3 linked regions of the Homo sapiens genome follow. The protein of the gene in region 2 interacts with the protein of the main gene of each other region in a pairwise test. Each region holds a gene or a part of one and is shown on either strand. Other genes may lie near its edges.

Region 1 (7,038 bases), on a different chromosome or scaffold from region 2:
TGTAAGAGTATATTCTAACAGTAATATTTGTGATATTACTATTTAATCAATAAAACTCTTACATTTTCCTGTATTTTGAGCCATGTTCTCTAGCTATTCTTTGTCGTCCAAACCTATCCCAGTCCATTCTTACTGACACTTCTGTATAATTTTTCTGAACCTCATACTTTTCAATTCAAAACACTTAATTTTTTTCCAGATGGTATTTTGGCAAAATGGGGAGAAAAGATGCTGAAAGATTACTTTTGAATCCTGGAAATCAACGAGGTATTTTCTTAGTAAGAGAGAGTGAAACAACTAAAGGTATGAATATTGTTATATTAGTATAAGTATAAAATTTCTTGGGGCAGTATTTTGAGAAAGATATAGTGAAAGTATTTATTTTTCACCCAGGTGCTTATTCCCTTTCTATTCGTGATTGGGATGAGATAAGGGGTGACAATGTGAAACACTACAAAATTAGGAAACTTGACAATGGTGGATACTATATCACAACCAGAGCACAATTTGATACTCTGCAGAAATTGGTGAAACACTACACAGGTATGTGAATATTTCAAAGGTAAAAATTATTTCTTCATATTCTAGTTTATGAGGACAAAATCCATATCCTCATTTCTCTTAAGATTTAACACACTTATTTACACATAATACATGCCCAATAAATGTCTGTTGTATTCTAAAGGGAGGAACAGGTAATACTTAGTACTTGCATTGTGCTACTCAGATAATGTGCTAATAGACTCTCATCATTTGGGTCCTTATATCTTACTGGCATAGTATTTACATTGGAGTTCATTTCACCACATGTACCTTATGAAAATAAACCTAAAAGCAAATATTTATGGGCACTTAGTAAGTAAAACTAAACATTGGGTAACAGAAAAAGCTATGTCAGAAGGATTACCTTCCTCTGCATGGGCTGGATCGCATAAGCTTTCCTAAAGTATAAATCCAGTGAAATTTGGTCTGACGATGCATTTTTCTTATCCTAGAAAATTAACCTATAGCAATTATAGACATTTTTGTCTTTCAAGGACCTCTGAAGGTATTTAATATTAGAATCTTCTGTCTCAAAATTTTTCATTACCAATTTGGCATATGAATGCACCTGAAAGTCTTTACATGATTAATACTAGGAGAGGGGATGTTTCCATGGTAATGTCTTCAATGACAGCTAGCTGCAAACTGAGTCTATCAAGTCAGCCAGCAATCTTGACATTGATCAAGCATGTTACCAAGCAGTGGCATCACTTGTAATTGCCTTTGTCACAATGTGAATTTATGTGGTTATTTTAGTGAGAATAGGAGAGAACATGTCTCATTTATAATAAGAAAGATTGTATAAGCAGAATTCATAAGTCAAGCTGTTATGAATCTAGGGTTCCCTGACTTTGTGTCTCCCTTATTTAAAAAAATCAGTCTCCTGTTAGGCATGTGGATTGTGCCTTTAATCCCAACTACTGATGCAGGAGGATCACTTGAGGCCAGGAGTTCAAGAACAGCCTGGGCAACATAGCAAGACCTCATCTCTTAAAAAAAAAAAAAAAAAAAAAAAAAAGGCCAGGCGTGGTGGCTCACTCCTGTAATCCCACCACTTTGGGAGGCCGAAACAGACAGATCACTTGAGGTCAGGAGTTTGAGACCAGCCTGGGCAACATGGCAAAACCCTATCTATTAAAATATAAAAAAATTTAGCCAGGCGTGGTGGCATGCACCTGTAGGCTCAGCTACTTGGGAGGCTGAGGCAGGAGAATCACTTGAACCTGGGAGGTGGAAGTTGCAGTGAGCTGAGACCACACCACTGCACTCCATCCTGGGCGACAGAGTGAGACTCCATCTCAAAAAAAAAAAAAGAAAAAATCTCCTAAATGATCCTAAATGAACTTTTTCCTTGATTTTTTGGTATGCCTCTTACAAATTAGTGGCTATTAGATAATAACATTTAATGATAACATTCTCTTTGAGAATTAATAAAACCCAGTGTACAAAGGCAGAACTTTGGAAGCAGACAGACCTAGATTTGAATCCCATCTCTACCATTTACTAACTGCAGGGCCTTAGGGGAAAGTTGCGTATGTTTTCAAAGCTTCATTTATATATGAGATACTTGTGAAGTGCTAATTTAGCACAATAGTGGAACATACTAAGTATTTAGTAAATAATAACTTAAAAAAATATATATTTTAAGTTATACTAAGTATTTAGTAAATATACTAACATATCTACTATATATTAGTATATACATACTAAGTAGTAAATACAATATATTTACTATATATTAGTATATACATACTAAGTAGTAAGTAATAACATGTATATATATATATATTTTTTTTTTTTTCGAGTCAGAATCTCACTGTGTCACCCAGGCTAGAGTGCAGTGGCGCAATTTTGGCTCACTGCAACCTCTGCCTCCTGGGTTCATGCGATCCATCTGCCTCAGCTTCCTTAGTAGCTGAGACTACAGGCATGCACCACCATGCCCGGCTAACTTTTGTATTTTTAGTAGAGACAGTGTTTCACTGTATTGGCCAGGCTAGTCTCGAACTCCTGACCTCGTGATTCATCTGCCTCAACCTCCCAAAGTGCTGGGATTACAGACGTGAGACACCTTGCCCGGCCTTAAAAATAAATTTTACAAAATGTTTCACTTATGTATATTTCATGTTTTGCTGCTTATGGACAACTCCCTTTTTGTTTTGTGCTTTTAGAGTAAAACTCGAAAGGACTTCTGTTTTTGTTTTTCTACAGTTTAAACTTAAAACATTGATACACTATATGCCCCTTAATTTTTGTAATTGATATTACAGTATAGTTTATTCATTTATCTAGAACATGCTGATGGTTTATGCCACAAGTTGACAACTGTGTGTCCAACTGTGAAACCTCAGACTCAAGGTCTAGCAAAAGATGCTTGGGAAATCCCTCGAGAATCTTTGCGACTAGAGGTTAAACTAGGACAAGGATGTTTCGGCGAAGTGTGGATGGGTAAGAAGCCTGAATTTTTGTTTTCTGTCATTGTTTAGCTGTGGATTAAAGTGCAACAATTTATGATAAAATATGTTTCAATATTTAAGAGAAGTGCTGTTCACTGAAGTTTGGTCTAAAATCCTTTAAAATATAAATTCCTAAAATGTGTTATTTCTTTAGGAACATGGAATGGAACCACGAAAGTAGCAATCAAAACACTAAAACCAGGTACAATGATGCCAGAAGCTTTCCTTCAAGAAGCTCAGATAATGAAAAAATTAAGACATGATAAACTTGTTCCACTATATGCTGTTGTTTCTGAAGAACCAATTTACATTGTCACTGAATTTATGTCAAAAGGTATGTATTAGTATCTCCTTAGGTATTTGTGTTGATAATGTTTTTAAGAGTCTTGATTTGTATGCATATAGACTTATACTGTTTTCTAATTTAAGATTTTTATGTAGACATATTTGGATAGAAGAAACCTGACACTTTGTTTAATGGAATAGTGATTATCCAGTTATTCCAGAGGATAGTATGACGTTTAAAAGGAAAAGTAGGCAGGCTGAATTAATTTTGAAATTAAGTTTGACTAAAACAAATGGAAAAGCTAGAAAGGTGAAAAATAGAAAGTGTTTGTACACATTTAATTAAAATGATAAAATCAGAAAGATACTTACATTTTTAGTACTAAAGCAAAGAAATAAGGTAAAGTTAAAATGAATTAGTTTTCTCATTTTAATATAAACATAATTCCTATATTCAGGACTTCTAGGAACTTTTTTCCCCACTGCTTTCTTTTTTTTTTTTTTTTTAAATAGAGACTGGGGTCTCAACTATGTTGCCCAGGCTGGTCTTGAACTCCTGGCCTCAGGCAGTCCTCCCTTTTTGGCCTCCCAAAGTGCTGGTATTACCAGCATGAGCCACTGTGCCTGGCCTCCCCACTACCTTCAATGGAAGTTTCTTCATTTTCCTTAACTCTAGACCACAAGATGGGATCTTCAGTAACAGGGTTAGTTAGGGGGAGGATAAAGAGAAGATTGATACTCTTTCCTCTTTTTCCCTGTGCAGATGGTACTTAGAGGAACTAGTAAGTCAGCAGATAAGCTGACAGGCCTGATTTTTATGTGTTTGATTTCATCTGCTTTATTATTATTTTTACTCTTGAACCAATAATATACAGTAGTCACTAATTATGTCACCCTCTCCAGTGGTGTGTCTTGGTCAATGATGTAGTTCCATCTAGTGGTGACAAGGACAACTACAAGTTACATATTTGCTGTAGGAAAATTTTTCCCCTCAAAAGGGGACTGAAACCAAAAGTTAAGAAATTATACAGCCTATTAATTGATAGCCAGAACACACCTAAAGACCCAAAGCACCTGGCGCTCTTTGGAAGGAATGTCTACTGCAAACAGTTGCCAAATATGACATTTTTTTGTTTGTTTGCTTGTTTGTTTGTTGTTTTTGTTTTTTTGTGAGGTGGGGCCTCACTCTATCCCCCAGGGTGGAGTGCAGTCACATTTCTCTGCAGCTTGGACCTCCCTGGGCTCAAGCGATCCTCTCATCTCAGCCTCCTGAGTAGCTGGGATTACAGGTGCATGCCACCACACATAGATAATTTGTGTATTTTTCTACAGATGGGATTTCACCCTGTTTCCCAGGCTAGTTTGGAACTCCTGGGATCAAGCAATCAGCCTGCCTTGGCCTCCCAAAGTGCTGGGATTACAGGTGTGAGCCACCACACCCAGCCCAAATATGCCCTTTCAAAGAGTATATTAGATGAACCAGAGGGGAAGGGAGGGCCAGGCATGGTGGCTGACCTGAGCAACATGGTGAAACCCCATCTCTACAAAAACTAAAAAAATTAGCAGGACGTGGTTGCACACACATGTATTCCCTACTCAGGAGGCTGAGGCATGAGGATTGCTTGAGCCCAGGAGGTTAAGGCCATAGTGAGCTGTGATTGTGCCACTGCACTCCCATCTGGGGTGAAAAAATGAGACTGTCTCAAAAAAGAAAAAAAAAAAAAGGAGAAAAGGACAGGGAAGATGTTTAAATCAAGATATTGGAAGCAGGCCAGGCACAGTGGTTCATGCCTCCAATCCCAGCGCTTTGGGAGGCCGAGGCAGGCAGATCACTTGAGGTCAGGAGTTCGATCCCAGCCTGGCCAACATAGCGAAACCCCGTCTCTGCTAAAAATACAAAAAACAGCTGGGCGTGGTGGCTTGTGCCTGTAGTTCCAGCTGCTCGGGAGGCTGAGGCACGAGAATGGCTTGAGCTAGGGAGGCAGAGGTTGCAGTGAGCCAAGATGACACCGCTGCACTCCAGCCTGGGTGACTGAGTGAGACTCCGTTTCAAATAAATAAAGACTTTAACAATTAAAAAAGATATTGGAACATAAGAAATATAATGAAGGTAAGGCTAATAGCCCATTTAGCTCTGTATATTAATTTTAAGAATTATTTAATTGGGAGAACATGGTAAAATTCTGTGTTGTCAGACCACTGGGTACAATTATTTCCAGGCGGGAGAGATTTAGAATACAAGATAACAAAAGTCCTTTCTATTTTTAAAACTCTTTAATTCCTCATTTTGGTATTCACTTAGCACTTGTCCCTTTATAATCTGTCCAAACTCATTGTCCCATGCACTCCAGCATAAACCCACTGTTCTGCTCTTTGTTTTCATGATTTTTTCATGTTTTCTCTTTGACCTGGAATTTGGTCTCCCTAGCTCTGGACCAGTCCACCAACTACACTTCCCCGATCCAGTTTATGGTCAGGCATTCCATTTAGTTGTCATTTCTATTTAGTCTCCTTTAATCTAGAGCCATTCCTCAACCTTCCTCTGTCTTCCATAGCATTGTTACTTCTGAAGAGAATAGACCACTTTTATGTTTTAAATGTGCCTTAATTTGGTTTTGTGTGATGTTTTCTCTTGATTATAAGCCTTAACAAATAATAGTGAAGCCGTAATCAGACTTCTAGCCTTTTTCTTTGCTGTTATTCATAGTACTTTGTAGTTTTCAGAGAGAGAGCTTGGTCACAGCAGTAGTTCCACAGCGACTCATTTAGCTACCTATATTTAGTTTTAACCACACCCAAGATATTCCTAGTTGTCTGAATTCTTGATTCAGATTTACTTAAAAATATGTAAGTATTTAATACTACTTTTTGAATCAGAATTGGGATATTGATCAAAGCGAGGAAAAAATGCCTCTTGTCAGGTAAAGTTAATGCATTTTCTTTTTTTGCATGTGTTATCAGAAGTTTTCAAAATTTCAGCTTAGAGACCTCTTCTAGGACCTAGATAATTATTTGGAAACTGCAAAACTGCACAAAATTTAAAAAAAATGAAAAGCTAAGAAGTTTTGTGTTGTGATTTGGGGTGGAGGAGTATTCATTTCAATCCTAATATAAGATTTGCTTATTTTTTATGAATATCTTGCTGTCTGTTACAGGAAGCTTATTAGATTTCCTTAAGGAAGGAGATGGAAAGTATTTGAAGCTTCCACAGCTGGTTGATATGGCTGCTCAGGTATCTGTATATATACATGTATCCATTTGAATTAAAAGTGTAAATTAAAATGTGGAATAATCTTACCAGAATATTATAGTATGTGTAGTGAAATGGTGGGATTTTATTTTTATTTTTTATTTTTTAGAGACAGCGTCTCATTCTGTCACCCAGGGTGGAATGCAGTGGTGCACTGATAGCTCCGTGCTTGAAGAGCCTTGAATTCTTGGGCTCTAGCAATCCTCTCGCCTCAGCCTCCTGGGTAGCTAGGACTGCAGGCACAGGCCACCATTCCCAGCTAATTTAAAAAATTATTTTTTTTGTAGACACAGGGATCTCTCTGTGTTGCTTAGGCTAGTCTCAAAGTCCTTGGCTCAAAGGATCCTCCCACCTCAGCCTCCCAAAGTATTGGGATTACCTGGCCAATAATGGAATTTTAGAACTGGCAGGAACGTCAGAGATAATCCAATGTGAGCTCTTAATGATACAGATTAATGAAGTATCAAAAGATGAGAGGTATCTAAAATTCACAAAACTTGTTAG
Region 2 (2,759 bases):
AACAAGAAAATTAGAAGCTTACATATAAGAAGATATTTTTTAAACTACAGACATCAAAAAAGAAAAAAGAGCTTTAGACATGTTATAGTATTTCCTCAGAAGAGCCTTTTTTGAAATGTACAGTTATGGCTGGGCATGGTGGTTCATGCCTGTAATCCCAGCACTTTGGGTGGCCAAGGCGGGCGGATCACCTGAGGTCAAGGGTTCGAGACCAGCCTGGCCAACATGGCGAAACCTCGTCTCTACTAAAAATACAAAAATTAGCCAAGTGTGGTGGTACGTGCCTGTACTCCCAGCTACTCAGGAGGCTGAGGCACAAGAATCGCTTGAACCTGGGAGGCGGAGGATGCAGTGAGCCAAGATCATGCCACTGCACTCCAAGCCTGGGTGACAGAGCAAGACTCTGTCTCAAAAAAAAAAAAAAAACAAAAAAGAAATGTACAATTATTACACTTATAACAAAGTAATAACTCCAGGAAAAAAAACAACATAAAAATTGGTATCATATTACATCAGCAGAGTCTGTTTAATATCTTTAATAATTATATCATTTCTAAAGCTTTCCACAAAAGGGTATTACAGTTTTTTAACTTATTGCAAACATATCTTAAAAAAAAAAAGTCAGCCTTAATACTGAAACTATAACATGAATTTTAAATTATGGACACATACCATAAAACACAATGAAGAACATTTTATTTAAATAAAAAGAGAATATTTCGCTAAGCAATAAACCCAACATATTTCTTTTCTCTCCATATCTACATCCAATGGTGATATTTTATAGGCTAGTTTCTAAACAGATGCAAATTTTTACAAAGCGATGAAAGCCACGTTTTGCTCAGGAATACTACGGTTCACATACCATATAGGTTGTTTTACAGCAGATACTAGTTTGCCAAGCTTCAGATGGCAAAATGCTAAGTTGTGAATTGAGTATTGTCCAGCTAGTTGTTTCTCCTTGCCCTAGAGACTCTGGCAGTATGACTTTTGAGAGACTGCCTTATTGCTGCCACTTCTCTTCTCATAGTTGAATCCGTTATGGGAGAATATTCATGTCCTTAAGATGCAAGTCCGAGCAAAAAGCCTCCCACAAATCCACTGGATATCACAATGTTCTGCTTGATAAATTCTGTTGCCTGAAACAAAGTTTAAACAAAAATACTCTTAATTATGCTACAACAGGGATGAACCTTGAAAACATTATGCAAAGTGAAATAAGGTAGACAAAAAAGAACAGATATTACATGATTCTGCTCGTATGAGTAGTCAGAAAGCAGAATACAGATCATTAAGAGCTGGGGAGAGAGGGAAACTGAAAATTAATGTTTAATGGGCACAGAGTTTGGGATGATGAAAAAGTTCTGGAAATAGTGGTAATGATTGCAGAAAAATGTGAATATGCTTAATGCCACTGAACTGTATGCTTAAAAATGGTTAAACTGGTAAAATTTTTGTATAACTATTTTACCACAATAAAAAGATGCACAAAAAAAAATTCTTACTGAATCCAGAGCCAAGTAGCAGTTTCAGCTATTTTCCTCAATTCAATAAATATTCAGCAAAAATTCCTGTGCACCTACTACTGCAGGTATCAAATAGCATGCAAGATCCCAGAAATGTCCCTGACTAATTGAAGGAGACTAGAGAACACAGTCATGCCCAGTAAGCTCCTTGGCTATTGAGATAATAAGTATATGGGCAGCAATGATCTCACAAGTAAAAAGAAATCTACCTGTAAGGTAGAGATGAATGGCCCATCATCAAGTTATTAACACAGATTATTTAATAAATTGTCACAGCAGGCACAATGGTATTTATTAATAGTCCATTTAGCCAACAGAAAAAAAAATGTACAGGATCAAAACCAAAACAAATTACTTTGGTAAAATGTTTAACCAGAATAAAATCATGAGGAAGCCATCAGACAAAGCCAGACTGTGGGATATTCTGCCTAGAGGTGTCAAAAATGTCAGTGCCATGAAAGATGGGGGAATAAAATTAACAGATGAAAGGACTGTTTAAGACTAAATGAGACTTCATAGACATGATAACCGAAAACAATATATAATTTTTTTTGGGGGGGTGAGTGGGAACAGGGTCTCATTCTGTCAGCCAGGCTGGAGTGCAGTGGCACAATCACGTCTCACAGCCTCAAGCAATCCTCCCACCTCAGCCTCCCAAGTAGCTGAGACTATAGGTGCATGCCACCGTTCTAATTTTTGTATTTTCTGTAGAGACAAGGTCTCTCTCTCTTACCCAGGCTGATCTCAAACTCCTAGGCTCAAGAGATCCTCCTGCCTCAGCCTCCCAAAGTGCTGGGATTACAGGAGTGAACTACTGTACCTGGCATATAATTCTTAATTGGGAAAAAAAAAGCCACACAAGATATTTTGTAGAAAAATATTAATATGAACTGCATATTAGAAAATACTGGCTGGGTGTGGTGGCTCAAACCTGTAATGCCCAGCACATTGGGAGGCTGAGGCAGGCAGGCTGCTTGAGCCCAGGAGTTTGAGACCAGCCTGGCAACATGGCAAAACCTCATCTCTACAAAAATATAAAAATTAGCTGGGCATGCACCTGTAGTCCCAGCTACTTGAGAGGCTGAGGTGGGAGGATCACTTGAGCCCAGGTGCTCGAGGCTGCAGTGAGCTGTGATCACACCATTGCACTCCAGCCTGGGTGACAGAGCAAGACCCTGTCTAAAAAAAATTAACAAAGAAAGGAAATACTATTATCTCATGTTACATTTTTTT
Region 3 (6,863 bases), on a different chromosome or scaffold from region 2:
GAATTGACCTAAGGGCCATCTAACAAAAGAACTACTTGACAAATCCAAACTTGTCTCAGACTTCAGTGCAAGGTATCTAATCCTCTGTAATTTTAAATTCTTGCTGGATCTCTGAAGCATGTGACAGTACCCAAGTACTGTTTCTCACATACTGGTTATATGACATCCCAAAAGAATCCTATCTCCTCGTTCTCTTAGACAACTAGTCTTTGCAAAACAAACTTTAAGACATATCTTTTAAGTTTTACTGAAAGAATTGCACTGAACAATTGTCCAACTAAAATCTTATAAAATAAATAATAAGGCACTGGAGTTAATCATTACAAAAGAACATAGGATACATTTTCATTTAAGAAGTCGTTACTTTCCGTCTTTATGGAGGAATATAGAGCTATCATTGTAATGCCCCACTTAAGTCACAAATCATTACAAAAAATGAGTAAGATTTAGTAAGTACGAATTCTATTAATGGTGCTTATGATTTTATATAAAGTGAAACTTGTTATTAATTAGTTCTTCATTATGTGATTTCTGTCTCTTTATGAAATTAGTGGAAGAAATAAAATTGTTAACATTTTTGGATGAGACTACAGTCTGAAGTTCAGATTATGGTTCTTCTATTATTTTGGACAAGCTGTTAAAATTCGTATTCATTTCTTATACTTTCACTGCTGCAATTTATTGACTGCCTTGACAGAATATGATGTAAAAGGAAATTTCAGAAGATTGTGACTTTTTATATCAGAAAAGAGGAAGAGAAACCTATTTTGAAAGGACCTAGAATAATATTAAAAATGAAAGGCTGAAACAAATGGCTCATTCTTGCTTCTCATTATTTAAAACAAAATACCATAATTATTTTTCTAATTTCCAGAGAAACTCCCTCACTAATTTCATTATTTCAAGCCCACACCTAAGATGAAGTTAAACTGAAGTTAACATCAAACAGGTATGTATGTTATCTAATGTCCATTTTTCCAGTGCTTTTATCCTTCTCAATTACAGAGCATACTACATCCTCGTTCAATAATAAATATAAATTAGAAGACAGTAGCATTCAATGAAATCACATCGTAATAACCACTAATGTTTATTAAGCACTTAATACTTGCCATGCACTGAGCTAAACAGATTATCTAAAAAGATGAATTTAATCCTCATGACAAATAATCCCGACAGATTAATGTATTGATATTTTCATTTTACATACAGATAAGGAAACTGAGGCCTAGCAAAATTATGTGGCCACACAGCTATTAAGTGATAAAATCAGGCAACATAATGAAGTATTTGAAAGTAACCATAGTTAGGGACATGATTCATTTCTCTCCAAAGCTAGAAATATGTCTGGTCAGGTACTGTGGAAAGGTCTGGTCTTCACCTGCTGCACAGCTTTAGCAGATTTTATAGTAATAGTGGCAAGATCCCTCAATCATTAAAGAGTAAGCAATTGTTACTTAAGCTTTATACCTTTAGGTAGATTCTTTCAAATGGATAAACACTTACATAACAAGAACCAAGAGTCAAATGAATCCCAGAGGTAAGGAACAAGTGTGATGTGGGAGGATATTAGTTTTATGAGGATTTGAAAAACTGCAGTTATTCCTAAGGGAGGCACCACCGGCACTTGTGTGTGTGTATGCAAACGACTGTGTAGAAGACAATTCCCTTTATGTTGTACAGCGCTGTCACATATGTCACAATACATTTAGTATCCGTTAACTGCTCCCCCTCCCAAATACTAGAAGTTCTCTCAATCCTTGTGACTACCCAATATATATATCCCTACACATGTTCTGCTGACCCTGACAGAGAACCTTGATTGTTGGATAAAAATACTGGGAGAGAAGTAACTGACATGAATTGTACATTGTGCTCCAGGGACTCTGCTAAATGCATTCACACACATTCATTTAATTTTCATAACCCTATATAAGTAGATATTTCATCCCCATTTTACGAGTGTGGCCCCTGAGGCTCAGAGCAAGGTTATGCAACTTAATTAAGGACACACAGCCAGTTTTGAAACCAAAAGTGTGGCTCAAAAACTACTCTACTCTAAGTTGGCCTTTTAAGCCATAATGGTGAGAGAGGTGTGACTTCCCTTTCTTTAAAGAGGTTCATTCAGAAAGTATAAATCATTCTAAGTAGGAACCACGGTGTGTACCTCCTTATGAACCAAGGATGAATTAGTTCTCTAGGTTAGGAATGAGGAGCCACAGGCGCAGTGCCAGAGTTAACATGAGGTGTGTTCAAGATTTGGGCTGGGCAGCTCCTATGAACCGGTATATATTAGAATGTGTGTGTATGTTTTCCAGGGAATAAGAGAGTTGTGTTATGCTGTGTGAGGTTTATGTGTTTCATTTAACACACAGCAGTTACTATACCCCAGGCACCATTAAAATTGCTGGACAAGATCACATTTCAGCACGTATGTTAGGTAATGAGTGAGCAGGGTATGCACCGCGTGATGTGTGGCGGGCTGGTGTCTGTGCAGCCATGTACACAGATGATGGGTATTGGGCTGTGCTGGAAAGGAAAGGTCCGCTGTGAGGTGTGTGTTTAGAGTGGCAGTTTGTGCCGTGGTACAGATGGTAGTGTTTGAGGCTGGGGGAAGTGTTATGCTGGATGACTTGTGTGCAATGCATACGGGAAGTGCTGCACAGGAAAGACCGTGTATGCAGCACACATGTGCATTTTTTGTGCGTTACGGATAGTGCCGAATACCGGAGTTCCACAGGAAGGGATCTAGGTTGTGTCCTGGGCCTGTGTATGGTGCCTGCAGGCGCTGTGGATTGGGGTGCTTTGTATGTGTAGCGGTGTGTGCTGAAAGTGGTGCATACGACATGATTCATGCGGTGTGCTGGGTAGGGACGAAGGCTGGAGCAGTGCAGAGGAGGGGCCCGCGTCGTGATGTTGTGTGGAGCGATGCTGAGTGCGGTGGGTGAGGGGGCGATCGTGCTAGGTGACTCGCGTGCGTTCCCCGTGTAACCGGAGGCGCTGTATGGAGAAGGGGCACTGAGGGGTAGGGGAGCAGGCTAGCGTACTGTGAGACACCGGGCGGGCGGAGGGGCCGCGTGGGCGGCGGGCTGCCAGTGCGTGTGCGTGGAGCAGCCAGCCCACTTCCTCACCCAGAGCCATGCCGGGCCCCCCTCCCCGCCACCCTCCCTCCCGCCTCTTCCCTAGCCCTTGGACGCGCCCCCCGCTCGGCTGGGCCGCCCCACCTGGTAAAGGCGAAGTACATGAGGCTGACGATGGTGAAGCTGAGCAGGGTGATGGTATGCGGCCGGTAGAAGAAGTCAATGGTGATGTCCTCCACTTGCTGCTCGTTGATCATCCGGAAATGCATTTTGTAGTTCACATCATCCTTGCTTAGGGTCCGGCTCCCCACGCAGGACGCCATGGCCCGCCTCCCCGTCCTGCCGCGGTGGCGGCGGCCCCAGCCCGAGAAGGCCGGGACCCCGGGGGTGACTAGCCACAGTAGGCTAATAGCCGGACGGCAAAGCCGGGTCTGGCGCCCAGCAAAGGCTGGGAGCAGAGGGAAGGACAGGCGCGAGAGGGCGGGGTCGCGGCGCCGCCACCGCGGCCTGGGGCAGGGGACGCCGCCGGCCGTCCCCACGCTGTCATCCTAGCTGAGGCATCTCTACCACTCGAGGAATTTTCAGACTCCAAGTCCACAGGACTTCAGAGGAATAGCGAGCCGGAGAAGGGTAGCCGGGGCCCCTGGCTGGCTCTTTTCAGAGCACGTAGCCCGCTGTCTCCCCGCGTAACCCGGCACATGGTCTCGCCCACTCCGGGCGCGGCCCACGTGGGCCCGGGAGCGCGGCTGCGCTGTGTAGGGCGGGCTGAGGAGCCGGCGTGCGGCGCGGCGGGACGGGACGTGCGGCCCAGCGAGTTGGTCGGTCCCGGGGTCACCCGCTACGGGAAGCAGGCCTCGCCACAGGTAAAGCAGGAGCTGCCCCAGCACGAGGATCGCGCTCCTGGCGAGGGTTCAGGTTCCGGCGCACCCGCGTCCAGACCGCGCCCCAGGGCCTCAAGGGCCTTTAGGTTTTCGCGGCCCAGTAGAGGGTGATTGGTTTTGTTTTGTGTTTTTCCCTGGCTGATGTAGTGAAAACTCAACCATGCTGGCTAATTAGCGCAGTGTGAGAAGCCTCAGGAGGGGGCTCTGCCTTCCTGCGCAAGTTTGGGGAACTGAAGTGGGCTAAAATGGCCTGGGAAGTATTGAGAGACCCTTTATTAGGAAGCTGCCCCCATAACCTCCCTTTCTCTCCTGATTTCATTTATAGCATTTCGTAGGTAGAAATCTTGAACTCTATTTCAGTGCCTTTTTCTAGCGAAGCACTAGGCACTCATTGAGAACAGTATATATGAATTGTTAAGAGACTTCAGTTTCTTTAAGGGTTTTCTGTAATTTTCCTGATGAAAGGACCTTGTTAGAAGACTTCAGGTTACCACCTTACAGGGCTTTTATACACATCTGCACATCCCCTACCCGCTTTTGCATACTGTGTAAGCAAGTGAGTTAACTGTACTTGCCATTGATTTATTTCCATTCCGCAAACATTAGAGCAGTACAAGGCTCTGGGAAAGTGGAGAATAGTCCCCGGAAGGATGGATCCAGGGATGAGACCCAGCTCTGCTCTCGTGCATGAACAGTTAATCAATTGTTAAGATGTGTAGGCAGCAATGAAAGGATGTGGAGAAGATAGTGCACTTGTAAATAAAAATGCAAGGATAAACATTAGTTGTATGCACAAAGATCTTTTAATGACGGGGTGAAATTTGAAAGTGAGTCTTCCTGATGTTTAAGTGGTATTGAGTGTGGAAAGGCTTCAGGATGAATTTGGGATTTCAGGAGTTTGAAGTAGGATGAAGTGCTTAGACGTCAAAAAATGTTAGAGCTGATAGGGGCCTTAAGAATCATCTTATTGTACCCCTAGCCTTTTAAAAAAGCATTATTTGAAGAATAGTTATTGACCCCACCCCCACCCCCCACATCATGGGCTAGACTGCTGCTTTTGTTAGACTGCTGCCAGAAACAGCCTTGTCAAGGTAGCACAACCGAGGTCTTCTGACTTTCAATTTAGTGCCCTTATGACTACCGTGCAGAGAATGAATGTTGTAGGTTTGAGGGAAAACTTGGCACATTTGGAGTCCCATTTCCCACCAAAATCTAACAGAAACCACCTATCCCAGCAGGGTATTGTGAATACTTACTTCTTTTCTAAAATCATCGCAGAATGGGCCGAGCGCAGTGGCTCACGCCTGTAATCCCAGCACTTTGGGAAGCTGGGTGGATCACCTGAGGTAAGGAGTTCGAGGCCAGCCTGGCCAAGATGGTGAAACCCCGTCTCTACTAAAAACACAAAAAATTAGCCGGGCATAGTAGCGGGCGTGGGTAATCCCAGCTACTCGGGAGGCTGAGGCAGGAGAATCACTTGAACCTGGGAGGCAGAGGTTGCAGTGAGCCAAGATGGTGCCGTTGTACTCCAGCCTGGGCAACAAGGGCGAAACTCCGTCTCAAAAAAAATAATAATAATAATAATAATAAATAATTGCAGAATGAAAGGAAACTTTCACTTTTGTAAAATCTCTTTCAGCAAACTTCCCAAAACTACAGATCTCCAAGAAAAGATTAGACCCTCAAGTATTTGGTCTAATTTAGAGCATAAAACAAGCTGAATTCCAGTATGCAGAAAAACAAAGTATAAAGTTGTAGGCAGCAATTAATTCAGCAGAATTTTTGTATTTGGTTGTGTAACCAATAATAATGGCTAACATTTATTGAGCATTTCTTATATCCTGACTCCATCCTGTGTTTTATATGGATAATGTTATTTAACGTAAGATTATATGCATCAAATTTACCTTTCTAATTAGCTGGCTAAATATAAAATCCCTTCATATTCCTGGAGTTTAACATAGCACTAGCCTTTCCTGATAAAAATATTTTTGAAAACTACTTTTTCAGTCAAAATATACAGGTATTAATTGCTGGTTGCTTATTTATTTCTGTCACTTGGTTTTGTTACTAGTTTTGACCTTTTCTTTTTGAAGGCTTTTTTCTCCTTTCCTACAGTGAAACAAAACTTGACAAAACTGGTTTTGTTCAATTCCCTTTGGAAGAACAGCTTTATCTGTGAAGTAATCAACAGTGTTCAGCCCTGAGAATGAAGCAAGAAACTGCTTTCACTGTTCTGTATATCAATGATAATATTTTGATGATTTGTTTAGGACACAGTAGATTTCTGTTTTTTCATTTTGGGACAAATTTATATACATAAAATGCATTTGAATAATTCAGTGTTACTTTGATCAGCAATGTGCTGCGGAAACACCCTTCACACCAAATTTCAAGAACACTTATTTGCATCAGCTTATTCTCTTTAAATGATTAAATTAACAGATTAGTGAGGTCTGCTGTCACTTGAACATTTGCAGATTTTTGTTTTAAGCATTTTTCTTACACCAGTGTCATTGCATTTTGTTTTTAAATTGTAAAGTATATCTTTATTTTTCCACTCAGAAGTTCCTGTCTGTTGGTTTGTAACTGAGATTGCCTTGTTGTTGGCTTTTCCTGTACATAAGAAACATCTCACTATTTTAGACTAAATATATATTTAAACACCTTTCAATTAGAAAAAAATAATTTCCAGTTTATCTTTTTGTTGTTTGAATACCGTTTTAAACATTTAAGTAAATTAAATTTCTCTTCTTTTGACGGTTATATCTTTCCTTTGTAGACTAAGAAAAATGGCTTTGTCAGCCCAACAGATACCCAGATGGTTTAACTCAGTTAAGTTGAGGAGCCTCATTAATGCTGCACAACTCACAAAACGTTTTACTAGACCAGCAAGAACACT

The links. The genes of interacting proteins can lie anywhere in the genome.
Region 1: the proteins of FUNDC1 (region 2) and YES1 interact in binary tests that used the Homo sapiens proteins (3 or more experiments, as listed by UniProt).
Region 3: the proteins of FUNDC1 (region 2) and MTERF3 interact in binary tests that used the Homo sapiens proteins (3 or more experiments, as listed by UniProt).

The regions. Positions count from the first base shown.
Region 1 is NC_000018.10:739,213-746,250, reverse strand, and holds part of YES1 (tyrosine-protein kinase Yes), read left to right. Parts: intron 1-199; coding exon 200-303; intron 304-393; coding exon 394-543; intron 544-2,835; coding exon 2,836-2,991; intron 2,992-3,153; coding exon 3,154-3,333; intron 3,334-6,439; coding exon 6,440-6,516; intron 6,517-7,038. UniProt on the Homo sapiens protein: Non-receptor protein tyrosine kinase that is involved in the regulation of cell growth and survival, apoptosis, cell-cell adhesion, cytoskeleton remodeling, and differentiation.
Region 2 is NC_000023.11:44,523,137-44,525,895, forward strand, and holds the end of FUNDC1 (FUN14 domain-containing protein 1), read right to left. Parts: intron 1,140-2,759; coding exon 1,062-1,139; 3' UTR 503-1,061; downstream 1-502. UniProt on the Homo sapiens protein: Integral mitochondrial outer-membrane protein that mediates the formation of mitochondria-associated endoplasmic reticulum membranes (MAMs).
Region 3 is NC_000008.11:96,258,581-96,265,443, reverse strand, and holds the start of MTERF3 (transcription termination factor 3, mitochondrial isoform 1 precursor), read left to right. Parts: upstream 1-3,833; 5' UTR 3,834-3,943; intron 3,944-6,743; 5' UTR 6,744-6,753; coding exon 6,754-6,863. Other genes in the region: PTDSS1 (phosphatidylserine synthase 1), read right to left, coding at 3,225-3,403.